Linked DNA regions of Homo sapiens. The protein of the gene in region 1 purifies or fractionates together with the protein of each later gene. This does not show direct contact. Each region holds a gene or a part of one and is shown in the gene's direction. Other genes may lie near its edges.

Region 1 (4,176 bases):
CTGAAGTGGAATAATTGGAAATTGCTTACCATGCAGACCATAACAGGAAGAAGGCTGGTGTCACTGTCCATATCAGGTGGGATAGACCAAGGCAGGAGGTGACGGGTGACGTTGCAGGGGCGAGGGCAGTGACATGGCTTCAGTACAGGCAGCACAAAGGGCAGAAGGAGGGGTGAAGTTGACAGGCCCACGCTGATGGCCGCCTCTCTCCCCAGGCAGTGGAACAGGTAGACAAGAACAGGATATAGTTTTTTTTTTTTTACAAGGTTTAACCAACTTGACCTGAGTTTTGCAAACTTCAGCGAATACTTGGAGAAATGGCATCTGTTCAAGTGGGCGTTTATTAAAGTGGACTCCACGTTGGGTCATACAGCAAGTCTCAAGGCATCTCAACAGTGGATTAAAGTGGGAATCAGTGACAGGAAAACACCCAGAGACCGTATGCTCGTTAAGTGACCTGTGTGCCAAAAAGGAAATCACTGTTGAAATGAGAAAATATTTTAAACACATTGATAATCAAAATACCACTTACCAGATGTGTGGGGTGCATCTGAAGCAGGGTTTAGAGGAAATGTGTAACTTCAAATGCATACATTAAAAGGAAGAAAGGTTGGTTGCGCACAGTGGCTTACAGCTGTAATTCCAACACTTTGGGAGGCAGGAGGATTGCTTGAACCTGCGAGATCAAGGCTGCGCTGTGGGCGAGAGGCGTGTTCCCTGCGTGGTGAGCCTGCGCCGTGCCTGGGCGAGAGGCGTGTTCCCTGCGTGGTGAGCCTGCGCCGTGCCTGGGCGAGAGGCGTGTTCCCTGCGTGGTGAGCCTGCGCCGTGCCTGGGCGAGAGGAGCACAGGGTTGCAGCCATGGCACAGATGTAACAGCTGAGCCTGTCAGGAGTCCGCTCTGCCCTGTTGGAGCTAGTCTGGCAGGAGCCTGCGGGCAGTGTCCTCTGCAGTCCAGGGCTCTCGGGAGTGGCCAGCCCTGCTCACAGACCTCATTGTGCCCTCAGCGCCAGGCTGGGTGAGCCGAGCCTGCAGGCCCAGTGCCCAGGGCCATCTCAAGGGGCAGCTGGGGGAGGGAGGCTGGGCATGAGCGGCACTCCCTCTGGGGCTGCCCAAGTTCGGTCTGTCCCAGGACCCAAGCCCGTCTGGCCGACCTGGCTCCCTGCACACTCCCTCCCTCCGTGCCCCTCCCACTGTGCCTCTCCGCCCTCGGTCGTGGCCGGTCTGAGCCTCCGCTGCGGTGGCCGTCGGATTCTCTGCTGGTGCCTGCAGGCTCCTCTGCAGACGTTGCCTCCTCCACATCTCCACGCCAGCTGTGCCACCGCTGTGCAGTCCCTGCCACCCCTGACGACAGACAGCGGCACGCAAAGAGGCTCGGGCGCAGGGGGAAGCTCGTGTTGGCCCCGGCTGGAGTGCACATCAGTCCCGGCTTCGGCCGTGGCCACCTCCGCCCAGAGCCTTGAGTGGGCATTGAGGGGGCGCTGCTCTGCGTGAGGTTGGCCACCCCTCAGGGCGGGCACAGGGTGCTCTCCCCTCGTGCAGGGAGAGGATGTTTTAGAGGGTGAGCAGGAAGGGGTGAACTAGAGGCCTTTCACACATCACAGGCATGTGTGGAGCTCAGAGAAGTGACAGTTAAAACCAGCCGTGGCTCTGACCCACACAGGCCGCCGGGCCCGTCTCCCTGCCCTCCCTCGGCGGATCCCACTCTGCTCTGGGTGTTCCTGGCCCTGCAGACACTGGCAGCCTGGGTTTCCCAGGAACTGGCCGCCACTCTTTTGTGTTTCTTCTTTATTTTCTTAGGTGTATAACATTCAACATGTAGAGATTTTAGGTGGCGTAAAATAAGACAGGCATGGGGAGCCTGCTGCCCGCTGGAGAGCCCAGGCTTATCAGTGCAGTTTATGACAGTGGGATCAGAGATGATCATAGGAAATGTGTGAAATAGCCTGGAATTCCTTAGAGAGCTGTGGGGCTGGGAAATGGTCAGTGTCAGGTCACACCTGCCTCCCCGTGCGGCCAACACCCCAAGGCGGGCCCTGCTGACCCCTGCCCCTGCTCCCCACCCACATGGCCGACACCCCAAGGTGGGCCCTGCTGACCCCTGCCCTGCTCCCCACCCGCACGGCCGACACCCCAAGGCAGGCCCTGCTGACCTCTGCCCTGCTCCCCACAGCTCAGCCTGGGCTGCCTCCCCAGCCCCACAGTGAACACAGCTTTGTTTCCCCCGGAATCATGTTCCCAATTCCCTGGCAGCCGGATTCTAGAGGTCTTGGTTTTATGGGCATCTGTTGACAGTTGTGGATTTTTGTCAGGGCGGACGTCGTCATTTTTATGGAAAACACATTTAGTATCCCAGAGTGCGTGCTCTGAGCTGCCGGGTGGCTGCAGTCTGTGTGTGCTGGGTAGTGAGGGCCAGCGCCTGCCTTGGAACCCTGGGGTCCCACCTCAGAGCTGCCTGCCTGGGTGCCGGAGTCTCCAGCTGTGGGATGTTGTCCCGTCTGCTCTGAGCACGTGGCCTCCCCTGGAGTTGCAGGAAACATGGCGGCCCCGCCCGGTGCCCCTCTGCCTTGAACACAGTCGCGGGCATCCCCACTGTGACGTCCGAGGAGCGAGTGAAATGATGCTCTTCTGGGGCCGTGACCGGGGGTGCTGGTGCCCTGTGGGTTCCTGGGACAGCTGCTGGGTCAGCTCACAGGGCTCCAGCTTCCGCAGGCGGGGGTGGCCGGCTGCCCTGGTTGTTCTCGCCCCGCTGCCTGCAGCTGCCACCTGTTTCCATGCACGTTTCTTTAGTGAATGTCCAAGGACTTACAGACTACTTGGGTGGCCTTCCTAAGTGGTGTCTACTTGTAACCGCAGGTATGACCTGGACGCGTGTGACATTCAAGAAAAATACCCGGATTTATTTCAAGTGAACCTGGAAGTGGAGGTGGAGCCCAGGGACAGGCCGAGCCGGGAAGCCCCACCATGGGAGAACTCGAGCATGAGGGGGCTGAACCCCAAAATCCTGTTTTCCAGCCGGGAGGAGCAGCAAGACATTCTGTCTAAGTTTGGTAAGATCCCGCAGGTGAATTAGGTGAACCCTGTTCTGGTGAGTGTCTCTGTGGAGAGAGACACCTTTGGCTGAGCTCTGGCAGGGCTGGGCCCCACGCCTGCTGCTGCACCCAGGCCCTGAGCAGCTTGGGCTGCAGGAGGTTTTGGAAACTCCGTCGTGGATGTTGGACACCACCACCAGCTACACCAGAGAAGGACTCGCAGGCTGCAATTTCTGAGGCCCATGGGCAGGGACGGAGGCAGAGGGAGGAAAACCCAGGCTCCTGGAGCGAAGCGGGGTTTTGTCCCAGGCGTGTGTCTGGGTCAGATTTTTGTCATGTGTGCTGGACACACGTCCACTCTCACTGTGAGCCTCAGGCCTGCTGGCAGCATGTGGAACAGAACCCTCGCTCCTGTCGCTCTTCACTTCCGAGCAGTTTCGAAACGGCAGCCCAGGAAGTGCTGGCAGGTGGGCCCAGGGCCGTCCACTGCTCATGCCACGCTTGTTCTCGGCTCTTGGTTTGCAGTGTTTGCTTTTTCTTTCTGAGCATCTTCAGCGTCCCTGAAAGAGGCTGTATGTGTGACCTGTGCGTGCTGTGTATGTGTCCGTGGGTGGTGTGTGCCGTGTGTGTGTGTGCACGAGTGGTGTGTGCATTCATGTGTACTGTGTATCTGTGTGCTGTGTGCATTCGTGTGTACAGTGCATCTGTGTGTGCTGTGTGTGCGTTCGTGTGTACCATGCATCGGTATGTGCTGTGTGTGCGTTCGTGTGTACCGTCCATTTGTGTGTGTGCATGCATGTGTACTGTGCATCCGAGTGTGTGCATGTGTGTGTACCGTGCATCTGTGTGCGTGCATTCATGTGTACCCTGCATCTATGTGTGCTGTGTGCATTCATGTGTACTGTGCCTGTGTGTGTGCATTTGTGTGTACCATGCATCTCTGCTGTGTGTGCATTCGTGTGTACTGTGCATCTGTGTGTACTGTGTGCATTCATGTGTACTGTGCATCTGTGTGTGCTGTGTGTGCATTCATGTGTACCCTGCATGTGTGTATGTGCTGTGTGTGCATTCGTGTGTACTGTGCATCTGTGTGTGTGCATTCATGTGTACCCTGCATGTGTGTATGTGCTGTGTGTGCATTCGTGTG
Region 2 (4,176 bases), on another chromosome or scaffold:
ACCAGAGAGTTTTTACTTTTAGGGAAATTTGATTTGGGGGGTACAAATTTTAAGTGTATAAATCTGCTTATAGGCTGGTACTTGTTTCCATTTTCTGGCCAGTGATTAAGAGAAAGATACCCGGCATTCCTCAGAAATATCTCACCCTTCCACAGTGACAGATGTGTTGCTTTTCCAAACCCTAAGCTTTCCTGCGGTTGAGCTTGAGAAAAGTAGTCAGGCCAAACCCATGGTATCCCAGATGGATTCAAGAACCCTGAAATGCTTCATTTTATTACTTTGTATCATATTTTTTAAAACACCAAAATGTGGTTGGTAGGGAAGGATACTTTTAAAGAAATGTCTCTAAGCTTGATGCAGTGGCACCTGCCTATAGACCCAGCTACTCTACTCAGACTCAGGCTGACAAGACAGGATCACTTGAGACCAGCCTGGGTAACATAGCAAGACCCTGTCTCAAAAAAGAAAAAAAGAAATGTCGTCAGTCTAAAGCCAGGGACAAACTCTTGAGCCCCGAAAATTATGTTTATGTGCAAGAATGCTTAACAGCCTCATGAACATCTGAAATACCAAATTTTCAAGCAGTTAGGGTAGATGAGTACATTGATAAAGTTACCACACAGTTGTTGCCAAACTATTTATTAACATAAAGGTTTTTGGCACTTTTGCACATAACCACCTTATAGACTAACCACACTACTCCAAAAGATAGAGAATGGCTCTCCCCTTTTTACATAAGAAATAGAAACTCTTTGGAGTTGTAGTTCACTTTGTATCATGTTGACCATTATTTCTTGTGATTCTCTTCAGAGTGGTGATTTGCTGAGATGCTTCAAGGAACCAACCCCAGGGTAACTAGTTGGAGGAGCCAGAAGTTGTGTACAAATCCAGTCTCTTCTCTTCCTTGTTTAGGAGCAGCACCCTGAGGAGGAACTGATCAAGACTAAGCAGGATGAAGTCAATGCAGCCTGGCAGCGGCTGAAGGGCCTGGCTCTGCAGAGGCAGGGGAAGCTCTTTGGGGCAGCAGAAGTTCAGCGCTTTAACAGGTGTCAAGCCAGAGTGGGCTTTGGGGAATGGGTCTCAACCTGGAGGGGAGTTGTGAAGCACAGGGCATGTGCTGGTGAGCTGTCGAGGCTGACTAGGCCTTGGTCCCATGGGGTGTTCCTAGTTCTAGGGAGTCATCATTGCTGTGGATTAACTGGTGCCTTTGTTCTGTAGGGATGTGGATGAGACTATCAGTTGGATTAAGGAAAAGGAGCAGTTAATGGCCTCTGATGATTTTGGCCGAGACCTGGCAAGTGTTCAGGCTCTGCTTCGGAAGCACGAGGGTCTGGAGAGAGATCTTGCTGCTCTAGAAGACAAGGTGGGTTTTACAAGCAGCTGATTCTGTAAATAAGTTACCAAGGGTCAGGAGAATAGTTCTGACGGAGTTCATTTCTAGGTCAAAGCCCTGTGTGCTGAGGCTGACCGCCTGCAACAGTCCCACCCTCTGAGTGCAACACAGATTCAAGTGAAGCGAGAGGAACTGATTACAAACTGGGAGCAGATCCGCACCTTGGCGGCAGAGAGACATGCACGGCTCAATGATTCATACAGGTGCAAATAATGCTCCAGGTCTTAACCAGTATCATTTGGCTTCTTTTTTGGAAGCAGGAATAGCAGAGTTAAGGGTCTGTTCTGTGTTCTGTGAAAGTGTCAGGTATCACCTACAAATGCAAATCACTTCTTACCTATGTTCTCTCTGTTTGGAGACTGGCAACTGTATCATGTGTAGTATACGTATGGTATTTACAACTTCATAAATTCTTCTATTCTGCATCACTGCATTATGATTGATAGAATGGGAATGTCCCTTTAAGTATCTGAGTATCACATGAAATATCTTATTAAAACCAGGATTAGAAAGGAAAAGAATCCTTGCTAGCCAAGGGTTGAACCTGGGAATAACAAGGAAGTTGAAAATGTGGGACAGGATTGGGGCATTATAGTGATGGAGAGAACCTAAGTTTTAAAGGGTTGATTTCAGCCTTCTCTTGCTTTCCTTCACAGTCTAGATTGGGAAATTTTCATATTTCCCAGAATTAGAATTTATATAGTTTGTTAGACATTTGAGAACATAGAATTCAGAGCTTTAGGGAGGCCATTTTCCACCCTGGAACCTCCGCTGGAAACATAATGTCTTCCTTTGGTTTTCCCTAGGCTTCAACGCTTCCTTGCTGACTTCCGTGACCTCACCAGCTGGGTGACTGAGATGAAAGCCCTCATCAATGCAGATGAGCTTGCCAGTGATGTGGCTGGGGCTGAAGCCCTGCTAGATAGACACCAAGAGCACAAGGTAATGGTATCTCTAGAATCTTCCAGAAGTGAAGATTTTAGCTTATAATGCACCAGTTTATCAGTGTTGGGTGAGGCCTATAGTCGGCGTTGGTACCATGTTATTCACAGGTGTTTCTCATCATGAGGATTATGGTTGGTTTTGCCTTTGGAGACCTGGTCTACCTGCTTCTGATAGAGGCTTAACTGGGTTCAGTGTCAAGAGGTTCACTGTGGTCCATAAAAGCAAACAGACAAGCTCTGGCGAGATAGAAGTGCTACTACTTGGCACATTGATCCTTTGTGATGTAAAAAGTATTTGTTGGGCCAGGCACGGTGGCTTATGTCTGTAATCCCAGCACTTTGGAAGGCTGAGGCGGGTGGATCATGAGGTCAAGAGATCAAGACCATCCATGCCAACATGGTGAAACCCCATCTCTACTAAAAATGCAACAGTTAGCTGGTCATGGTGGCACGCGCCTGTAGTCCCAGCTATTCAGGAGTCTGAGGCAGGAGAATCGCTTGAACCCGGGAGGCAGAGGTTGCAGTGAGCCAAGATCACACCATTCCACTCCCGTCCGGACAACAAGAGTGTTTCACTCTGTCTCAAAGAAAAAAAAAAAAAAAAAAACCTTCTGAGAGGTTTTAATGTGCTAGATACAAAATCAATATACTGAAAGTCAAACATGTTTCTCTACACTAGCAACAGAAACATAATTTTTAAAAATACTACTTATTAGAGCAGAAAATATAAAGTACTTAGGAATAAGTCTAACAAAAGAGTGTAAGACACTTCTGGAGAAAACTATAAAACTTTGTTAAAAGGCATTAAATAAAAACTGAATAGATAGAATGATTTATCTAGTACACAGATGGAACGATCTTCTGTGAAGGTGTAAATTCCCACCAGGATATATACCGTTAATGCAGTTCCAGTCAAGTGCTCAGCAGGTATATGTGTGTGTTTCTTTTTGCAATGAGATAAGCTGATTCCAAAACTGATTTGGAAGAAAAAAATTCAAAAAAAGCTGAGACAATGTTGAAGATCATAATGGGGCCAGGGAGGGACTCGCCCTACCAGGTTCTATAAAATCATAGTAAACAAGTCCATTTGGCACAAAGAAGACAGAGCCCTGGAATGAAAGAGAGCTCAGACCCATGTGAATGTGTGGAACCTTGACAAATGACAGGTGACCTGAAAAGCCATTTGGAAAGGATTTCATCAGTGAGTGATACTCTCACATTTGATGACCTAGACTGATTATGTATTAGGAAATCTGGCCTAATCTTTCATTTTGTTTCTCATTTTAGATGTCATAGTCTGGCTTATAATGCTTATGTAAAATTCAGCACCTTGTTTTTATTTTGTAAGATGCTGGGCACAAATCATGGCTTTGTTTTTTTCTCCTGTAGGGTGAAATTGATGCCCATGAAGACAGCTTCAAATCTGCAGATGAATCTGGACAGGCACTGCTTGCTGCTGGTCACTATGCCTCAGATGAAGTGAGGGAGAAGGTAAGAGAAGAGAAATGGAGCTTTTGAGGAGCAAATTACACCTTTCACTAAGTCTCTGAAAGCTATTATTCATCCTTAAATATCCAGAGAACGCATTCACCATGATATGTGAGAAACTTTCCTTTCTCTGCAGAGGTTTAAAAAGAAGGTATATGTATAGTGTGCTGATTTCCTGAGAGACAGTCCTCCTTATCTGGGGCATGTGTGGCATGTTTCCTACTTACAGGGACTTTCTGTAGGGAGCTGAGTCTTGCATTAGGAGTTGGAGCAAAGAGGAAACAAATTTTTATAAAATGATACATAGGCCAGGTGTGGTGTGACCCCAGCACTTTCAGAGGCCAAGGCAGG
Region 3 (4,176 bases), on another chromosome or scaffold:
ATTAGGACATCCCAGAATCCACTGTGAGTAGAATCTCATAAGATTAAACCCGGGTTTTTTAGGAAAAAATAATCACATCGATTCTCGCATTTTATAGACAAAAATACATTGCAGAAAGAGGAGTGGCTGCCTCGAGCCACTCACCTGGACACTCAGTTTTGCTCTCACAGCAGCAGCCAAGGAATAAACCTCTAGGCCCGTGCTCTGTGTTTAAAGCAAACAAAAGCTTTTGAGGATGATAAGGATCTTCCCGGGGAAGGCCATGTCTTGAGAGATGAGGTAGGACCCCAGTTCTGGCAGCAGAGTTTCAGGAGGTGCTTGGAAGTTTGCGTGTTCTGGCCGTGGTTGCAGGTGTCGCTGTGTCTGCTGTGGCTGTGCAGCTGGTAGGACCCAGTGGAAGATAATGCCAGTGCACAGATCAGAGGAAGATGCTCTGCCTGTTCTCCTTTCAGTCCATATAAAATAGAGCTGTGAACATTCTTTGTTTTCAGATGAGAGCCTAAAACCTCCATGAAGCCTTTGCTGCTGTTCCTAGTAAATAGCTTGACTTAAAATACATTGATCAGTGTTTTCTTCTTTTTTTTTTTGAGACAGTTTCACTCTGTCGCCCAGGCTGGAGTGTTGTGGCTTGAACAAGGCTCACTGCAGCCTCAACCTCCCTGGCTCAAGCGATCTTCCCACCTCAGCCTCCCGAGTAGTTGGGACTACAGGCACGCACCACCACGACCGGCATTTTTTTTTTGGTGATGGGGTATCGCTGTGTGTTGCCCAGGCTGGTCTCAAACTGCTGAACTCGAGTGGTCCTCCTACCTCCCAAAGTGCTCGGCTTACAGGTGTGAGCCACTGCACCTGGCCAGTGTTTTCTTCTTTTATCTGAATATCAGAAAGATTTCCAAGAGACCAAAATAATATACATCTGCAAAGATGTGTGGATTGGCCAGGCACGGTGGCTCACGCCTGTAATCCCAGCACTTTGGGAGGCCGAGGCGGGTGGATTATGAGGTCAGGAGATCAAGACCATCCTGGCTAACATGGTGAAACCCCATCTCTACTGAAAAGACAAAAAATTAGCCTGGCATGGTGGCAGGTGCCTGTAGTCCCAGCTGCTCAGGAGGCTGAGGCAGGAGAATGGCATGAACCTGGGAGGCGGAGCTTGCAGTGAGCCGAGATCGCACCACTGCACCCCAGTCTGGGCGACAGAGCAAGACTCCGTCTCAAAAAAAAAAATGTGTGGATTAAACTACAGAGTCCTCCCCTTTGGTTTAATTTTTCCTTTGATTGGCTAAACTTATCTGTTTGTTCATGAGGGTGGTGCTGACAAGAAGAAAGACTGATAGAAAGAAAAGAACTTTCCTAAAGATATAGTCCTTGAATTTTTGCCTTAAGAGGCCAGGTTAACTATTCAAGTTTGTATCTACTATGTTTTATTTAAAAACTGATGGAGGTTTTTGCCCCTTTCTTTTCTGTAAGAGGTTTCTTGGCAATTCTGCCTGTTGTTGAAAGTGTTGGAATCCAGTCTGTGCCTTGTAAAGCTGCTTTAAGTTTCCTGGGAGTTTCCATTCCAGGCACAGTTACGGCTCCAGTTCAAAGGTAACATCTTGCTGGTGGTCCTTTCAGACCTTAAGCCAGTCACAGTACAAAAACGGAGACCTATGAAGAGGTGTGATAAAAGGCATTTAGATGAATATATTTATTTTGCAGTGCTTTTTAAAAAAATGATTGTGTCACTTTTTATTTATTTATTTTTTTAAAATAGAGACCGTCTTGCTCTGTTGCCCAGGCTGGACCGCGGTGGTATAATCATAGCTCACTGCAGCCTCGAACTCATGGACACAAGTGATCTTCCTTCCTTAACCCCCTGAGTCCCTGGGACTACAGGTGTGTGCCACCATGTCTGGCTAACTTTCTTCTTTTGTAGAGACAAGGTCTTGCTATGTTGCCCAGGCTGGTCTCGACCTCCTGGGCTCTGGCAGTCCTTCCACCTTGACCTCCCAAAGTGCTGGGATTACAGGCATGAGCCACTGCACCCAGCCTATTTTGCAGCTTTTATAACTATACTTCATAATGCTCTTTCATCAAAGAAAATGGAAGAATGAATTTTAAACTTTTGTATCCCTTTTGAAATTTAAAATTAACATGTATGGAAAGTATGATATAAAGTTTTCCTTTTTTTTTTTTTTTTTTGAGCTAGGGACTCACTGTGTCACCCAGGCTGAAGGGTAGTGGTGCTGTCATAGCTCACGACAGCCTCAACCTCCCAGGCTGACGCAATCCTCCTGCCTCAGCCTCCTGAGTAGTTGGGACTACAGGTGTGCACCACCATGCCTGGCTGATTTTTGTATTTTTTGTAGAAACGAGATCCCCCTGTTGCTCAGGCTGGCCTCGAATTCCTGGGCTCAAGTGGTCCTCCCGCCTTGGCCTCTTAAAGTGTTGGGAGTACAGGCGTAAGCCACCATATCTGGCCAGTTTTTCTTTCTTAATAGAAGAGTTGGCTCTTCCTGGATCTAGGGATGGTTTACAGGAAAACATTGAGTATCTGTGGGTCTGGTAGCATATCACAGCAGTGGTCAGGTTCCGCACTGTCCCTGTTGTTGTGGCGCGGGTCTGCGGCAGCAATGGGCCCTGTGAGTAGAGGATCCCAGGGGAGGGAGTGGCCATCTAGACATACTCCATCAGCTCGCAGCCAGGCCATCCAGGGTTCTCACTCTGTCCCCTGCCCCCCAGAACAGTTCCTCAGGGACAGGTGTTCTCTGCTGGGGTGGGGTGTAGGGGAGAGAGAGTCCTTGGGATTTAAGTGACATAAAATCATGTTCAATGTTTCTCTTTTTCCTTAGTTTTCCTGATTGCAGCTAGGACTTTGAATATATGGATTTTATGCTGATTTTCTCTTTTTCTTTTCCAGCTCCAATTAAGGAACAGCTATATCCTGCTTCCTTCTGTAAGCAGCATCGACTTGTGCAAGGGTTCAGTCATGCAGCCACCGCCCCAGACGGTCCCGTCTGGCATGGCTGGGCCACCTCCAGCCGGGAATCCTCGGAGCGTGTTCTGGGCTAGCAGCCCTTACAGGAGACGGGCTAATAATAATGCAGCAGTGGCTCCGACAACTTGCCCGTTGCAGCCGGTCACGGATCCATTTGCTTTTAGTAGACAGGCGCTCCAAAGTACACCACTGGGCAGTTCGTCCAAAAGCAGTCCACCTGTCTTGCAAGGCCCAGCCCCCGCAGGGTTTTCTCAGCACCCCGGTTTGCTTGTTCCTCACACACATGCCAGAGATAGCTCTCAGGGACCCTGTGAGCCCCTGCCTGGACCTCTGACACAGCCCAGAGCACATGCCAGTCCGTTTTCTGGTGCATTGACACCTTCAGCACCTCCTGGGCCTGAGATGAACAGGAGTGCAGAGGTCGGTCCCAGTTCAGAGCCTGAAGTTCAGACTCTGCCATATCTTCCTCACTACATTCCAGGAGTGGATCCTGAAACGTCTCATGGGGGCCACCCTCATGGGAACATGCCTGGGCTCGACCGACCCCTGAGCAGGCAAAACCCACATGACGGTGTGGTCACCCCAGCAGCATCCCCTTCCCTCCCTCAGCCTGGTCTGCAGATGCCAGGACAGTGGGGGCCAGTGCAGGGAGGCCCACAGCCCTCGGGGCAACATCGTTCACCCTGCCCTGAAGGACCTGTTCCCAGCGGGGTGCCCTGTGCCACCAGCGTTCCTCATTTCCCCACCCCGTCCATCCTACATCAGGGCCCTGGTCATGAGCAACACAGCCCTCTGGTGGCTCCCCCAGCAGCCTTGCCCAGTGACGGAAGAGACGAGGTGAGCCACTTGCAAAGTGGAAGCCACCTGGCCAATAACTCTGATCCTGAAAGTACATTCAGGCAAAATCCCAGAATTGTGAATCACTGGGCAAGCCCAGAGCTCAGGCAGAATCCAGGAGTGAAGAATGAGCACCGGCCCGCCTCTGCTCTTGTGAACCCCCTCGCCCGGGGAGATAGCCCAGAAAACCGTACGCACCACCCACTGGGGGCTGGGGCCGGGTCTGGCTGTGCCCCGCTAGAAGCAGACTCAGGAGCTTCAGGAGCTCTGGCGATGTTTTTCCAAGGGGGAGAGACAGAAAATGAGGAGAATCTCTCATCTGAAAAAGCAGGCTTATCTGGTCAAGCGGACTTTGACGA
Region 4 (4,176 bases), on another chromosome or scaffold:
CCTTTACCACCAGTCACCTCTCCTCTGAAGCCAAATACACCACCAAGTGCATCTGTGATCCCAGATGTACCTTATAATTCAATGGGATCATTTAAGAAGAGGGACCGTCCCAAGAGCACTTTGATGAACTTCTCCAAAGTTCAGAAGCTGGATATTTCCTCTTTAAACCGCACGCCTTCTGTAACTGAGGCTTCACCTTGGAGGGCAACCAACCCTTTCCTGAATGAGACTCTGCAGGATGTACAGCCCTCCCCTATCAACCCTTTCAGTGCTTTCTTTGAGGAGCAGGAGAGGCGCTCCCAAAACAGTTCCATTTCCAGTACCACGGGCAAAAGCCAAAGAGATTCCCTCATTGTCATCTACCAGGATGCCATCAGTTTTGATGATTCAAGCAAAACCCAGTCACACTCTGATGCTGTTGAAAAACTCAAACAACTCCAAATTGATGACCCTGATCACTTTGGCAGTGCAACTCTACCTGATGATGACCCAGTAGCCTGGATTGAACTAGATGCTCACCCGCCTGGATCAGCACGGTCCCAGCCTCGTGACGGGTGGCCAATGATGTTGAGGATCCCTGAGAAGAAAAACATCATGTCCTCCAGGCACTGGGGACCGATCTTCGTCAAACTGACAGACACTGGTTACCTGCAGCTGTATTATGAGCAGGGCCTAGAAAAACCATTCCGTGAGTTCAAGCTGGAGATCTGTCATGAGATTTCAGAACCCCGGCTTCAAAACTATGATGAGAATGGCAGAATCCACAGCTTGCGGATAGACCGTGTCACCTATAAAGAGAAGAAGAAATACCAGCCCAAACCTGCTGTGGCCCACACAGCAGAGAGGGAACAGGTGATTAAGCTGGGCACCACCAATTACGATGACTTCCTGAGTTTCATCCATGCAGTTCAGGACCGTCTCATGGATCTGCCAGTGTTGTCAATGGACTTGAGCACAGTTGGCCTCAACTACCTTGAAGAGGAGATTACAGTGGATGTCAGAGATGAATTCTCTGGCATTGTGAGCAAAGGAGACAACCAGATTCTCCAGCACCATGTCTTGACACGGATCCACATCCTGAGTTTCCTGTCTGGGCTCGCAGAGTGCCGCCTGGGCCTCAATGACATCCTCGTCAAAGGGAATGAAATAGTTTTGAGGCAGGACATCATGCCCACCACCACCACAAAGTGGATCAAGCTCCATGAGTGCCGTTTCCATGGGTGTGTGGATGAGGATGTTTTCCACAACTCACGGGTCATTCTGTTCAACCCTTTGGATGCGTGCCGGTTTGAGCTAATGCGGTTCAGGACAGTGTTTGCTGAGAAGACCTTGCCTTTCACACTCAGGACGGCCACAAGTGTCAATGGGGCAGAGGTGGAGGTGCAGAGCTGGCTGAGGATGTCAACTGGCTTCTCCGCCAATCGTGACCCCCTCACTCAGGTTCCCTGTGAGAATGTGATGATCCGTTACCCTGTGCCCAGTGAGTGGGTGAAAAACTTCCGCAGGGAAAGTGTCCTGGGGGAAAAGTCTTTGAAAGCCAAAGTGAACCGGGGGGCAAGTTTTGGCTCCACTAGTGTTTCTGGCTCTGAGCCTGTCATGAGAGTAACTCTGGGAACTGCCAAGTACGAGCATGCCTTCAACTCCATTGTGTGGAGGATAAACCGACTGCCGGACAAAAACTCAGGTGGGTGGTGGTTCCTCTTCTGTGAAAACAAACATACAGTTGTGAAAAAGCTGAGATCAAAGTTCCACATCCTGTATGAAGTGCTTGTTTTTGCTGTGTGATGGGAGTGGTGATGGAGGGGGAGTGGGACCAGAAAAGTAAAAATAATTGAGCAAGGTAAGTAATGCGTATAGTGACCCAGTTCACTCTGTCTTTTCACCCTCTCATTATCACACATCTTCCATAAAACTAGGGATTATTCTTCTCAGCTGAGCTGCTAAGCAGCTTTTCAGGGCAGCTTCTGAATTTATATTCTTTGGGGACTCATTAACGTATTAGCTGTGGTGCTGGAAGTGATTCATTTCTAGATGGCTTCTGAAGAGACATCTTTCTCACACTGCCCTCGATGTAGGTAAAAGGGCCAGTTTATGGCCAATCATGGACAATACACTGAGAGGTTAATTTTACGACTCCAGCTACCCTGTGCAGGGTCTGTTAGTCATAATATCTCACATTCAGACTTTGGCTCTGGGACTGGGGGATGGGAAAGAAAAGTGGCCTTCAATCAGACTGAAGATCCAGCTAGGACATGAATTTCTAAAAGGGCCAGAAGTCTAGCAGACAAAATATAAAGAAAAGAATGTTTTATTTAGACAAACAAAAAAATGCTTACCAGCCCTAGCTGGGCTGCTCGCAGCTATCAGGGATGCTTTTGTGCTTGAGTGAGTCCAGAAGGCAATTACTTCCCCCGTGGGTCCCGTGAGATTTAGTGAAATGACAAAATGAGGGAGCAGTCAAACCAGCACTAATACACATATTTCTTAGAGTATGTCTGGGTGACCCCAATGGTAGGCAGCAAGCCCATGATCTTGTAAGCCATTAAACCCCTTCTTTTCTTGTTTAGAATACATTTTGCCCATCTGTTAACGAAAGTGGATACGCTAGCTGAGCAAAAAGGATAAGGTTTGGAAAAACTCTTGAGTGAAATGGCTTTCTCTTATGTGGCTATCCTTTCTTAGATTCTCACTATAAATCGTAGCAGTGTGTTAAGAGTCTTCCTCTCCCGCTCTGAGTGTGGAGTGTCTGTATTATTATATCCTAAGTGTAATGCAATGTGACGGCCGACGGCAGTATAATCGGGCCAGCTCCCCAGGCAGTCCAGGGAGTGGACACACACCAGGGCATTCTGTATCAGACACTGGGTGTAGCTATGCAAACTGAAGAGACAATTGGATCTCTGTGTTTGAGGCTGGATTTGCTACTCCCTACTTCTAAACTGACAGAATTTTTAAAACCAAGTGTTCCTCTCTGTGCCTGCTTATTCATTTCCCCTGAAATCAGCACTGTCTTCTGCTGGTGGTAGCACTGTAACTTCTACCTTATCCACGGGGCCCCTCTGAATTGACAGAGGAAGAGAGAAAACCCTGAACTCTCCTTTGACACGGAAGCCCTTGGAAAGAGACAACCATGGAATTACCGGATTTTCAAGCTGGAAGGGACCTTGAATAACTTAGTCAAGTTATTTATAGATGAGAAAATTAAGGTCGGGAAGGTGATGTGACGTATCTAGAGAGTCATGCAGTCACATCCAGGGTCCTTTTCTTAATATATCACTGGTGCCTCCTGGTAGATGAAGCCAAATAGACACAAATATTGAAATAATTTCCACCAGAAGAACAGATATTTGCAGTTTTTCCAGTATGTACAAACGTATCTATTTGTTTCAAAGTGATTTCTCCCAAACATTTAAAAGTACTGCATGAAGGTTTATTATTATTATTATTATAAGCAACAAAGACTTATCGGCTACCCTAAGCAACAAAACAAATTATTGGATAGGATAGCTCAGAGACCTGAGGAAAAGACTGATCAAGAGAAGACTTTAGACAGACAGCACTAGAGTAGCTCTGGTCATAGAGACTAATGGATGTCTCCTCAGCATGTAGCCTTAGGACAAATCATCACAGACTATTTTTTGTTTTTGTTTTTTTGTGTTTGTTTGTTTGTTTGTTTTTTTGAAATGAAGTCTCGCTGTGTTGCCCAGGCTGAAGTGCAGTGGTGCGATCTTGGCTCACTGCAACTTCCACCTCCTGGATTCAAGCGATTCTCCTGCATCAGTCTTCTGAGTAGCTAAATTTTTGTATTTTTAGTAGAGACAGGTTTTCACCATGTTGGCCAGACTGGTCTCAAACTCCTGACCTCAGGTGATCCGCCTGCCTCGTACTCCCGAAGTGCTGGGATTACAGGTCTGAGGCACCGCACCTGGCCCTATTTTTTGTACTTTTGCAACTTGGCTCAAGAGACTAGGGGAGAGGAGTGCATTTTGACTGACGTGACCACCAAGACAACATGTAGCACCGGGGAAGATTATTTCCCAAAAGGAGAGAAAGAAAAAGACTGCTACCAGAAGAGAGGGAGGATGGATACAGGACAGGGAAAAAGCAAAACCAGGCCTTCAGCAAACACTCTCCTTAATGATTCCCAGTGGAGAGTGTTCTGTTGCCTCAAGGGCA
Region 5 (4,176 bases), on another chromosome or scaffold:
GAACATCAGTACAAGAGCTATTTTTTTGGCCGGGTGCAGTGGCTCGCGCCTGTAATCCCAGCACTTTGGGAGGCCGAGACAGGTGGATCACGAGGTCAAGAGATCGAGACCATCCTGGCCAACATGGTGAAACCCTGTCTCTACTAAAAATACAAAAATTAGCTGGGCATGGTGGCGCAAGCCTGTCGTCCCAGCTACTTGGGAAGCTGAGGCAGAAGAATCGCTTGAACCCAGGAGGCAGAGGTTCAGTGAGCCGAGATCGTGCCATTGCACTCCAGCCTGGGCAACAAGAGCAAGACTCTGTCTCAAAAAAAAAAAAAAAAAAAAAAAAACTATTTTTTTTTAAGGACTGCTTTTTTTTCTTCTTTTTTCTAATACAACTGTAACACCATTATCATAAGAGAGGAAAAAATAACAATAGTTTCTTATTATCAAATATCCATTAGTGTTTAACTGTTTCTGATATCTCATAATTAAGTTGGCTTGTTTGAATCAGTATCCAATACTAACAGATTGTATTTAGTTGGTCTATATTGTTTTCCATTATCTTTTCATATATTTTTTTCACATTTTTTACTATGAATGTATTCATTTTATAATGATGAGTATATCTGTTTTTTTGGAGGTATGGTCTTGCTCTGTTTCCCAGGCTGGAGTGAAGTGGTGCAGTTATAGCTCACTGCAGCCTCCAGTTCCTGGGCTCAAGTGATCATCCCAGCTGAGTCTCTCAAGTAGCTAGGACTATAAGCATGTGCCACCATGCCTGGCTAATTTTTATTGGTAGAAATGGGGGTCTCGTTATTTTGCCCAGGCTGGTCTCAAACTCCCGGCCTCAAGCCATCCTCCCACCTCAGCCTCCCAAATCATCGGAATTACACACATTAGCCTATGCGGCTGCTGGCTGATATATCTTTTAAGTCCCCTTTTATCCATAGGTTCCCTCTCCTCTTTTTTTTTTTTTTTTTGCTTTTTGTCATTTAATTTTTCGGAGAAACTGGATTATTTGTCCCTTGGAATTTTTGGCATTCTGGGTTTAGCTGATTGCATGCTATGGTGTCATTTGATGTGTCTGACCGTCTTCCGTGTACACTGGTAATTTCTCGAGGCTTACTCAGTATTTGATTCAGTTTGACAATTCTTTGTTCTTCCTGTTGCATCATGTCAGGAGGTCTGTAATGTCTCTCTGGCCTCTATTTCACTGATATTAAGATCAGGGAGCGTGTACTTTCAGATTTCCCTGAAGACTGCGTTTCCCAAAAATATTTTTAAAAAAAGGAAGAAAAAAAGATCAATCGGTGTATTGAGGTGTTGTCTGTCTGATCCATTTGTTTAATGTTCCCCATTAGCTTAGCAGGTATCACTGATCATTTGCCAAGTTCCTTAATTCATCAGGGATGGCACAGTGATATTCTAACATTCCCTCTTCATTTGAGGGCTGGACGTTTTCCATGAAGAAATTTTTTCATCAGCTCTTTAGCTACCCTGAGGTACTGTTTGTACAGAAAAGGCAGGAAAAACACTTGATTCTTTCCTTTTGTTTACTGGTTTTCAGAGTAATAAATTTGTTCCCTCTTGTCATCCAAAGGTGAACAGTGACGTTTTTGTTTTGTTTAGTTTAGTTAGTATCATTAGGAATTCTTAGATTTTAACATATTTGATATCTTTGAATACATTGCTTTTTTTGTTTTGTTTTTACTAGAGGTGGGGCCTTGCTGTGTTGCCCAGGCTGGAGTGCAGTGGCTATTCACAAGCAGGATCCCACTACTAATCAGCCCTGGAGTTTTGACCTGCTCCGTTTCTAATCTGCGCTGGTTCAACCCTCCTTAGGCTACTGGTCCCCTGCTCCCGGGAGGTCCTCATACTGATGCTGACCTTAGTGCAGACACCCAACTAGCATAGCATACTACAACCCTTGACTTCCTGGGCTCAAGCGATCCTCCCGCCTCAGCCTTCCGAGTAGCTGGGACTACAGGTGCACACCACCATGCCTGGCATATTGCAGTTTTAAAAAATGTATTTATTTTAAAGCTCAGATTGCCCCAACTTTGGCCAGTGGAAGTCTCTTCAAATTGGCTCCTAAATCCTTTGAATGTAACTCCAGTGGTCTTTAATGATTTCCTTGCTATCTAGGATCATGCTGCCCTCTAGGATCATGCTGCCCTCAACTTGAAATCATCCATTTTTCTTAGGAGCTCTGTTTCTTTTTAGTGCAAATAATGTTTAGAAACCACAGTTTTGATGCTAGAAATACCATTTGCCTAATGGATTGCTTGTTGTTTCTAGGCCTTCTCAGTGGACAATTAGAAAATATATTTTGTTTTGTTTTGTTGGAGAATAGGCATTATGAATTCGGATTTATATTCCTAATTTGGATTTGTAATTACTGGATTTCTGTTTAACTTCTTGGATTTTGTTGTTTTTTTTTTTTTCTGGAAATCTTGATTCTTAACAGCATTAACATAGATAATTAATTGTTCTATCGTTTTAAGATAGCAATAACCATATGATTACTGAAAACAGTTTAAGATTTCCTTGCCCATTTTACCCTTAGAATGTTTAGCACATTATTTTCTGGCGCGTTCAGCTACCAATTTGATACACCGGTTTATATGCATTGTTTTGCTTTTGATTTTTAGTTATTGCTTTTTAAATTTTAGTTTAATTCTGTTTTGTGGATATGTGAAACATTTACATAGTTTCAGAGTTAAATCTGCAAAAGTCCATCCCCACCAACCCATATATAGTGGTATTGCTCATTCTTATTTACAACTTGAGAGTATTCTATTAGATATTTCCTTCAGGATATATCTATCATAAATATTTAATCAGCCAGTCTCCTGTTGATAGACATTTGGGTTGTTTCCAGTATTTTGCTGTTATAAGTAGGCAGCTATTTTTTTTTTTTGACATCTTCTAATTTGTTAACCCTTTAACTTTGCCCCAGTAGACAAACAGTATCCTCCCAATTGACTCTAATAACTACGTAAAGTATACGGGATGTTCAAAGATACAGTGTTGACCTTAGTTCATCAGCAGGCCCTTATTTTGAGCTCTGTTTGTGTATGTAGCACATAGCCCCTAACAGTGGGGATTAGAGAGACATATAAGAAGTGTGGGCCAGATACAGTGGCTCATGCTTGTAATCTCAGCATCTTCAGAGGCCGAAGCGGGAGGATTGCTTGAGCCCAGGAGGTCGAGACAGCCTGGGCAACATTGTGAGACTGTGTCTCTACAAAAAATAAGAAAAAAAATTAGCCAGGCATGGTAGTGTGCACCTGTGATACCAGGTACTTAGGAGGCTGAGGTGGAATGATCACTTGAGCCCAGGAGGTCAAGGGTGCAGTGAGCCGAGATTGCTTGCACCACTACATCCCAGCCTGGGCAACACAGCAAGACACTATCTCAAACAAACAAACAAAAGGAAGCGTCATAGAGCACACTGGCTATTTTGAATGTTTAAGGAAGTTTAATAAAAATGGAGCTCTTGGGAAATAATTTTTAGTAAGACTTGAGATGAGTCTTAATAGTTGAGTTAACATTTAGGTTATTCTTTTCAGTGTCATCATTGCTTCATCCTGTTCAGGTAGGGAAGCATTTTAATCTTGGCTACTTCAAATCCCTTTATAAGAAGGATTACCTCTATGATTAGGAGATCGTTTATTAGCTCCTGCTATACTCTAGCTTATGGAGTCACATGATGTTTAGTCAGATAGCTTCCCTTAGGCAAGGCCCAGAAACCCACTTGGAAGGCCAGTCTGTAGTGCAGGAGGCAGCCTGGTGCAATGGATGGAGCCTAGCAGTGTAAGGGACTGCTGCTGTGTTGTATTTTAATTCCCTGAGGTCTCTATCATGAGATTTTAGGCCTAGCCTCAAGACTTTTCTACTTGCCCTTGCCTTTGGCTTTAGCACTGGTCTTCATTGTTTTTGAGACATTTGTCTTTTGTGACTATTATTCTGGGACAGGCCCTTATTCATCTCCTCATTTCTTGCTCAGTTTCAGGCAGTACATCCAGCAACCCAGAAACCAGCAATTGCTCAGTTCCCTGTGGTGTCCCAAGGAGGCTCTCAACAGCAGCTAATGCAGAATTTCTACCAGCAGCAGCAGCAGCAGCAACAACAACAGCAACAGCAACAGCTGGCCACAGCCCTGCATCAACAACAGCTGATGACTCAGCA
Region 6 (4,176 bases), on another chromosome or scaffold:
ATCTCTCTAGTCCAATTTAGGTGGCTTTCAGAACAAAGAATGCACTTAGTATTTGAACCTTTATAGCACCATTCATTAGTGATTTCTTTGGTGGAAATATTCTGTATCTGTGCTGTCTCGTATGGTAGCCACTAACCACATGTAACTGTTAAGTACTTGAAGTGTGGCTTCACAATTCAAGTGTGACTGAGAAACTGAATTTTAAATTTTCTTTAATTTTAATAAATTTACATTGAAGTAGCCACATGTAGCTAGTAGCTACCATATTGGACAGTGGAGCTGTAGGAAGATGAAAATAGGTCCTAACAGCTTTGGTCCTTGCTTGTTCTTTGTGTCTCTTGAGTATGCTTAGAGGCAAGATTTAGCTGGTCTTAGTACTGCTGTAGTATTTTTCATGTTACAGAACCCAAATTTATCTTTTCTGTTTTACCAAGCTCTAGCAGTTTTTCTTCTCCATGGAGAGAGTCTACTTTGGTGTCTGGAAAGATTTAATTTTTCAATTATGAAATTGGGTACTTGGGGAATACTCTTATGAGCTGTTTTCTTAATTCAAAGTGCTTTTTTTGAGAGAAGTACAACATTTGGCCTTGCATTCCAACTGAATTGAATTCACTTGGTTCATGAACAAGGTGTTCCTTCAATTTCACCTTTTTTCCTTGCAAAAACTGTGAGAAAGCACGCGATGCTAAAAATAGAGAACCGGTGCCAGTGGTTTTCAGCCTAGCTGCTGGCTACATTCTCAAGTAATTTTCTTTTCTCTGACCAGTAACGAGGGTGGCCAGAAGGGAAGGCACCTGTGAATGTGCTTTGCTCTCTAAGGGGACTCTTCCTCTTCATCCTCTGAGGGGAAGAATTCTAAATTAGTATTGCAGTGGCACTAAAGCTGCAAAAGCCAGAAGACCAATTTAAATGTACTATTTTATGCAGTAACCACAGTCTGTTCAGGAGGTCACCATTTTTATTTAATTTCATTTTTCAGAGATAAATTTTATATTTTAGTCCTAATGTATAGTAAATGTTAACATCAAAATACATTGAAAGAAAATACTGTCCAATCAAAAAGGTAATTATTTGGAAGTAATTTCACCATGATTGAAAAGGGGGCCTTACATTTTGAATTAGGTATTGTCACATGGCACTTCCAGCCCACAGCTTCTCATTGCAGCATAGCTAAATCTTGCATTCCACATCTGTACTTCATGCCATGGATAGACACATATTAGATGTTTACTGTAGAGGCTAGGTGGTGTGGCTCAGGTCTGTAATCCCAGCACTTTAGGAGGCTGAGGTGGGAGGATCACTTGAGCTCAGGAGTTCAAGACCAGCCTGGGCACCATAGTGAGACCCTATCTCTACTAAAAAAAAAAAATTAGCTGGGGGTTGTGGTGCACGCTTGTGGTCCCAGCTGCTTAGGAGATTGAGGTGGGAGGATCACTTGAGCCTGGGAGATTGAGGCTGCAGTGAGCTGTGATAGAACTACTGCAGTACAGCCTGGGCTACAGAGCGAGACCCTATCTCAAATAAAACAAAAAAAAGTTTACTGTATATACTTTAGAGTCATCAGTGAAAAATCTGAGAAAATGATTCTTCTGAACGACAGATCACCTTCCGACAAATTAGATACCGAGATGAACGTTCCTACTAACCTGAAACTTGGGGGAGTTTCTAGCTGCTATTAGGCTTTTTCTTATAGTTACACACAGCCTTTTGCAGGTTGTTACTATAAGACCTTTCTTGCAAAGGCCCTAAAAATGCCCAAGAATACTTCATTTTTCATCCCTTCTAGTAGTTACTTGACACCGCTACTGCTATCTACTCTCCTTCTCAAAGACACTAATTACAGTTTGGGCTCTTGGTCTGCACTTTCAAAACTCTGTCCAGATCACTGGTGGTCACGTTTTGTGATTATTTCTAGGCTTGCCTCCCTTTCTGTCCCTCCCTTTGGAGGAAGCATAATGAGGTAAGCAAAGTGTAAGCTTTACAGCCAGATCTGGGTTTGAATCTTGGCTCTGTCACTTACTATAACCTTTAGGAAATTCACTCAAACTTTCTGAGCTTTAGTTTTTCTCACTGCTGAAAATGTGATCAGAGTTTACCTTCTTGGGATTGTTGTAAAGATTGAGTTAGATGTCTATAAAACACCTGCCAGACAGAAGAACTTGTTTAAAGTGAAGTATCAGGTTAACTTCAAGTGTCAGCTGCCTCAGTAGCTATGACATGTATTTCTTTTTTTTTTTTTTCTTTTTTGAGACAGAGTCTCACTTTGTTGCCTAGGCTGGAGTGCAGTGGTGCGATCTCAGCTCACTGCAACCTCTGCCTCCCAGATTCAAGCGATTCTCCTGCCTCAGCCTCCCCAGTAATCCCCAGTAGCTGGGATTATAGGCATGCACCACCACATCCAGCTAATTTTTTGTATTTTTAGTAGAGACGGGATTTTACCATGTTGGCCAGGCTGGTCTCGAACTCCTAACCTCAGATGATCCACCTGCCTCGGCCTCCCAAAGTGTTGGGATTACAGGCGTGAGCCACCACAAGCAGCCGGCATGTATTTCTTTATCTCTCACTATCTACTGATGTATGTCTCTTCAGCTTAGTGTCTTAGAGAAAACCATATTTAGTCCTCAGAAACTTCATGTTTCATGTTTGAGAATCCAATCTAGCAAACCTGCTAGGTATGCATTTTCTTGCTGTCATTTCTAGAACCTTTAGGTTAACTGTTAGCAATGATCCCATACCTCTACCCCCTGCACTTCTCTCCAGTGGAGTTTCTTTTGTAGCTCTGCCCTGGCTCTGCCACAAACACACTGCAGACCAAGTAGGAGTAGATGCTTTGTGGTCCTCTCTAGTGCTAATATTCTGTGTTCTATCATTCTCTGGTTCCTGAATCATCTCTACCTTTGGTAATTGTCCTAATAGCACCCTGCCTCACAGAAGTGCTTCTACCATATTTAGTTATGAGAGTGCCACCTTGTGTTCCACAAAACCATTGTCAAACCTGGAATATGGACTAGTTTGGGAGAAGAGGTAAAAGATTAAGATGAATACCCTACTATGAACTAATATTGGCAGCATTGGTAAAGAATCATCTATAATTGTTTCTCCCCCAATTGGTGCCCAGAAGGCTTTTTTCCTATTAATAATAGAAGTCAGTATTTCCACATACACCCTTCTCTTTTGCTCTGCCCAAAACAAGACAAAACAAAACTAATGACCCACTAAGATGTCAGTGGACTGGGATAAGACCAGGAATAGGACTGTGGGAAAGACCAGGCAGGAATAGAAGCACTGAAATCAGAGTTGGTTGTGCAAACAGAGAAAACAGAAGTTTATCTTCCCCTCTCTACTCTTCTCCCCCAACAGGCACACAGACATGGACCTGCACCCACCACAAGTTCAGCAAGACCAAAATAAACTGATGAACTTCAGTTTGCACTTTGCCTCAATTGTATTGTCTTTCTCTTCTCTCCCTTCAAAGATGCCAATTCTCGGAAGCAAGAAGCAGAGTGGAAAGAAAAGGCAATAAAGGAGCTAGAAGAATGGTATGCAAGACAGGACGAGCAGCTACAGAAAACAAAAGCAAACAACAGGTCAGTCCGTGGTGGTTGTAGCACACTTTGTTTTCCAAAATTGAATCAAATCCATTCTCAGCATCCAGTCTCGGTTTTTGGCTTCTGCCTCCTTTAGTGTGAAATGTCTGCAGTTTTTAAAGAAAGTGCTTGAAACAGGTTGCAAGTCTCTCGGGTCTTGTGAGCATAATTCACCCTATTGTTTAGCCATCCCAATTGTAGTGAGCTTAGCTCTCTGAGAGTTTGGTTAATATGCATAACCTGTAATGGTGTGATTCAGCCAAGGGAAAAGTTACTTTCCATGGAACCCTGAAACGAAAGCTGGGTGTCATGAATACACCCAGATCTAGTTACTTTGGATATGATTATAGACTTGGTCATGTTGAGTCTCCTCAATATAGCCCTGCCCCCTGAAAGCCACTTCATGAAGGGGTCCGTTGGCAGGAATATGTGCTTTGTAATTAGGCAGCCAAGGATGTTCCAACATGATTATTTTAGAATTGAGGGTTCTGTGGGTACTTATTTGTGCCTTAAAAAGTCTTGAATTGACTTCTTAAAAATGTTCTGTTTGAAATAGATTTTATTTAGTTACTGATGGTTAAGGAGTTGT
Region 7 (4,077 bases), on another chromosome or scaffold:
GGCCGCTCTGCAGCTGGCCCTCCACCGGTCACTGGAGCCTCAAGGTCAGGTGGCTGAGCAGGAGGAGGCTGCTGCCCTGCGGCAAGCCCTAACCCTCTCCCTGCTGGAGCAGCCCCCGTTGGAGGCAGAAGAGCCCCCAGATGGGGGGACTGATGGCAAGGCCCAGCTGGTGGTGCACTCGGCCTTTGAGCAGGATGTGGAGGAGCTGGACCGGGCGCTCAGGGCTGCCTTGGAGGTCCACGTCCAGGAGGAGACGGTGGGGCCCTGGCGCCGCACACTGCCTGCAGAGCTGCGTGCTCGCCTGGAGCGGTGCCATGGTGTGAGTGTTGCCCTGCGTGGTGACTGCACCATCCTCCGTGGCTTCGGGGCCCACCCTGCCCGTGCTGCCCGCCACTTGGTGGCACTTCTGGCTGGCCCCTGGGATCAGAGTTTGGCCTTTCCCTTGGCAGCTTCAGGCCCTACCTGTGAGTCTACCTCCTGGACTGAGGGACGGTGGGGTGGGCTGGTTAGCAGGGGCTAGTGCCCCAGGCATGGCTCTGACCCCCCGCTTTTCCCCATGCATCAGTGGCGGGGCAGACGCTGAAGGGGCCCTGGAACAACCTGGAGCGTCTGGCAGAGAACACCGGGGAGTTCCAGGAGGTGGTGCGGGCCTTCTACGACACCCTGGACGCTGCCCGCAGCAGCATCCGCGTCGTTCGTGTGAGTCCATGCCCTGTCTCTCTGGCCTCATGGCGTCCTGGGCTCTTGCACCATTAGCGCCTTGCCAAGTCTGTGGCCTGTCCCTCTCGCCTACATCAAGGTCAGCTGACCAGGAGCTGACAGGCTCCCAGCCCTGTTCTCTGCCCAGAGGGCGTTCCCAAAGTGGGTAGGGAAACAGGAGGGAACAGAGTGGGGGCCTTGGGATCTGATAGGCCTGAGTGAGGGTCCCCACTCTGCCACTCGTGGCTGGGTCAGCAGGGACTATGGGACCAGCTCCAGGCCTCAGTTTCCTTATTTGGAGCATGGGGCGGTGATGCCATCTTGTGGTCATTTTGAGGATTACTCGCTCCACAGATGCGTCCCTTGTGCTGTTCTGGGCGCTCTTCTGCCTCCACAGAAAGGCCCGGGCTCGCTGCGGTCACTGTGCTGATGACACTGCGCGGGGCACTCTCTTTTTTGAGACGGCATCTCGCTGTGTCTCCTGGGCTGGAGTGCAGTGGCACGATCTCGGCTCACGGCAAGCTCCGCCTCCCGGGTTCACGCCATTCTCCTGCCTCAGCCTCCCAAGTAGCTGGGACTACAGGCGCCTGCCACCACGCCCGGCTAATTTTTTAAAAAATATTTTTAGTGGAGACGGGGTTTCACCATGTTAGCCAGGATGGTCTCGATCTACTGACCTCGTGATCCGCCCGCCTCGGCCTCCCAAAGTGCTGGGATTACAGGCGTGAGCCACCGCGCCCGGCCTTGCACGGGGCACTCTCAACTCTTGATGCCCAAAGTTGTGCGTGGGGCCAGCAGCATCACCCTCCACCAGGAGCTGGTCAGAAATGCAAAAAGAACCTCTGGCTGTCCCCAGACCTCACCACCATCATCACCACCATCACACCATCACCATGACCCTCACCACCATCATCACCACCATCATCACCATCACCCCATCACCATCACCACCACCATCACACCATCACCATGACCCTCACCACTCACTGTCATCACCACCACCATCACCATCACCATCATCACCACCACCTTCACCACTCACTGTCGTCACCACCATCATCACCACCACCTTCACCACTCACTGTCGTCACCACCATCATCACCACCACCTTCACCACTCACTGTCGTCACCACCATCATCACCACCACCTTCACCACTCACTGTCGTCACCACCATCATCACCATCACCTTCACCACTCACTGTCGTCACCACCATCATCACCACCACCTTCACCACTCACTGTCGTCACCACCATCATCACCACCACCTTCACCACTCACTGTCGTCACCACCATCATCACCATCACCTTCACCACTCACTGTCGTCACCACCATCATCACCACCACCTTCACCACTCACTGTCGTCACCACCATCATCACCATCACCTTCACCACTCACTGTCGTCACCACCATCACCACCACCTTCACCACTCACTGTCGTCACCACCATCATCACCACCACCTTCACCACTCACTGTCGTCACCACCATCATCACCACCACCTTCACCACTCACTGTCGTCACCACCATCATCACCATCACCTTCACCACTCACTGTCGTCACCACCATCATCACCATCACCTTCACCACTCACTGTCGTCACCACCATCACCACCACCACTACCACCACCACCGTGGCCACCATCATCACCACCATTAGCATCACCACTGTCACCGTCAGCTTCACCAACACACCGTCACCGCTCACCGCCACCAGGATCACCACCACCCAGACGCACTGACCTCATATCCTGGTGGTTTTGTTAATTATACGTACTTGGTTCTTCCGGTGAGCACCTTGATGACTTTAAATGGTATGCTTGAATTTAGTGAGCACCTTGATGACTTTAAATGGTATGCTTGAATTTTTTTTTTTCACTTGACAGCTTTAGAGATTGTTTCTTGCCTTCCCGCATGGAAGATGAGGAGAATGGGCCTCGCTTCTCTCTCTTTTGCCTCCTCCCTCATCTTCCATCTCAATTTGGTCAGTTACATTATTTTTATTATGTCGTAAAGGTTTCTGTAACTATCACAAAGCCTCCATGCGTGGGCCATAGGTTGGTAGACATACTATAATAATGAAAAAACATTTACCACTGAGCCATAGAAAGAGAAGTGAAATCCTAGTTATTAAAATTCTGTTCTGTAAAAAAGATGTTCTAGGATTCAAGGCTAATGGCTTTTCTTTTTTTGACTTTCTTCATTTTTTCCAGGCCATTCTTGACCACCGGGTTACTCAGTACCCCGCTTGTCACCTTTTGGCACAGACTCTTTTGTTTAGTGGGAGTATCTCCTTGAGTGGGTGCTAAACATATTTGACTTTTAAATTTACGTATATGTGAACATATATGTTTAAACATATACATTTATATATTAATATATACATTTATATATATAATTTTTTTGAGACAGTGTCTCTCTCTGTTGCCCAGGCTAGAGTGCAGTGGCATGATCTCGGCTCACTGCAACCTCCACCTCTTGGGTTCAAGTGATTCTGCCTCAGCCTCCCAAGTAGCTGGGATTACAGGCACACACCACCACACCCAGCTACTTTTTGTATTTTTAGTAGAGATGGTTTTTTTTTTTTTTTTTTTTTTTTTTTTTTTTGAGACGGAATCTCACTCAGTAGCCCAGGCTGGAGTGCAGTGGTGCAATCTCAGCTCACTGCAAGCTCTGCCTCCCGGGTTCACGCCATTCTCCTGCCTCAGCCTCCTGAGTAGCTGGGACTACAGGCGCCTGCCACCACGCCCAGCTTATTTTTGTATTTTTATTAGAGACGGGGTTTCACCATGTTAGCCAGGATGGTCTCAATCTCCTGACCTCATGATCTGCCCACCTCGGCCTCCCAAAGTGCTGGGATTACAGGCGTGAGCCACCGCGCCCGGCTGAGACGGGTTTTTTTTTTTTTTTTTTTTGAGACGGAGTCTCGCTCTGTCACTCAGGCTGGAGTGCAGTGGCACGATGTCGGCTCACTGCAAGCTCCGCCTCCTGCGTTCACGCCATTCTCCTGCCTCAGCCTCCTGAGTAGCTGTGACTACAGGCGCCCGCCACCGCGCCCGGCTAAATTTTGTATTTTTAATAGAGACGGGGTTTCACCATGGTCTCGATCTCCCGACCTCGTGATCCGCCCACCTCGGCCTCCCAAAGTGCTGGGATTACAGGCGTGAGCCACCATGCCCAGCGAGACGGGGTTTTGCCATGTTGGTCAGGCTGGTCTCGAACTCCTGACCTCAAGTGATCCACCCACCTTGGCCTCCCAAAGTGCCAGGATTACAGGCGTGAGCCACTGCACCCGGCCGACTTTTAAATTTATATTGCCCTTTACAATTAGAGGTATTTTGCAACTGTAATTTGATGTTGGTATGAACTTCCA

Evidence for each region.
Region 2: the proteins of GAK (region 1) and SPTAN1 purify together in Homo sapiens (affinity purification with mass spectrometry; one large-scale study listed by BioGRID and IntAct). This does not show direct contact.
Region 3: the proteins of GAK (region 1) and SEC16A purify together in Homo sapiens (affinity purification with mass spectrometry; one large-scale study listed by BioGRID and IntAct). This does not show direct contact.
Region 4: the proteins of GAK (region 1) and STON2 purify together in Homo sapiens (affinity purification with mass spectrometry; one large-scale study listed by BioGRID and IntAct). This does not show direct contact.
Region 5: the proteins of GAK (region 1) and AAK1 purify together in Homo sapiens (affinity purification with mass spectrometry; one large-scale study listed by BioGRID and IntAct). This does not show direct contact.
Region 6: the proteins of GAK (region 1) and CLTA purify together in Homo sapiens (affinity purification with mass spectrometry; 2 studies listed by BioGRID and IntAct, with this or other methods). This does not show direct contact.
Region 7: the proteins of GAK (region 1) and PARP10 purify together in Homo sapiens (affinity purification with mass spectrometry, with the first as the bait; one large-scale study listed by BioGRID). This does not show direct contact.

The regions. Positions count from the first base shown.
Region 1 is NC_000004.12:869,582-873,757, reverse strand, and holds part of GAK (cyclin-G-associated kinase), read left to right. Parts: exon of another isoform or gene 1-457; intron 458-532; exon of another isoform or gene 533-690; intron 691-2,853; coding exon 2,854-3,047; intron 3,048-4,176. UniProt on the Homo sapiens protein: Associates with cyclin G and CDK5. Seems to act as an auxilin homolog that is involved in the uncoating of clathrin-coated vesicles by Hsc70 in non-neuronal cells. Expression oscillates slightly during the cell cycle, peaking at G1.
Region 2 is NC_000009.12:128,575,911-128,580,086, forward strand, and holds part of SPTAN1 (spectrin alpha chain, non-erythrocytic 1), read left to right. Parts: intron 1-912; coding exon 913-1,046; intron 1,047-1,218; coding exon 1,219-1,363; intron 1,364-1,441; coding exon 1,442-1,596; intron 1,597-2,199; coding exon 2,200-2,335; intron 2,336-3,726; coding exon 3,727-3,828; intron 3,829-4,176. UniProt on the Homo sapiens protein: Fodrin, which seems to be involved in secretion, interacts with calmodulin in a calcium-dependent manner and is thus candidate for the calcium-dependent movement of the cytoskeleton at the membrane.
Region 3 is NC_000009.12:136,476,411-136,480,586, reverse strand, and holds part of SEC16A (protein transport protein Sec16A), read left to right. Parts: intron 1-1,756; 5' UTR 1,757-1,878; intron 1,879-2,902; 5' UTR 2,903-2,971; coding exon 2,972-4,176. UniProt on the Homo sapiens protein: Acts as a molecular scaffold that plays a key role in the organization of the endoplasmic reticulum exit sites (ERES), also known as transitional endoplasmic reticulum (tER).
Region 4 is NC_000014.9:81,274,409-81,278,584, reverse strand, and holds part of STON2 (stonin-2), read left to right. Parts: coding exon 1-1,684; intron 1,685-4,176. UniProt on the Homo sapiens protein: Adapter protein involved in endocytic machinery. Involved in the synaptic vesicle recycling. May facilitate clathrin-coated vesicle uncoating.
Region 5 is NC_000002.12:69,514,568-69,518,743, reverse strand, and holds part of AAK1 (AP2-associated protein kinase 1), read left to right. Parts: intron 1-1,697; exon of another isoform or gene 1,698-1,993; intron 1,994-3,994; coding exon 3,995-4,176.
Region 6 is NC_000009.12:36,200,593-36,204,768, forward strand, and holds part of CLTA (clathrin light chain A), read left to right. Parts: intron 1-3,475; coding exon 3,476-3,587; intron 3,588-4,128; exon of another isoform or gene 4,129-4,176. UniProt on the Homo sapiens protein: Clathrin is the major protein of the polyhedral coat of coated pits and vesicles.
Region 7 is NC_000008.11:143,979,554-143,983,630, reverse strand, and holds part of PARP10 (protein mono-ADP-ribosyltransferase PARP10), read left to right. Parts: coding exon 1-464; intron 465-565; coding exon 566-699; intron 700-4,077. UniProt on the Homo sapiens protein: ADP-ribosyltransferase that mediates mono-ADP-ribosylation of glutamate and aspartate residues on target proteins. In contrast to PARP1 and PARP2, it is not able to mediate poly-ADP-ribosylation.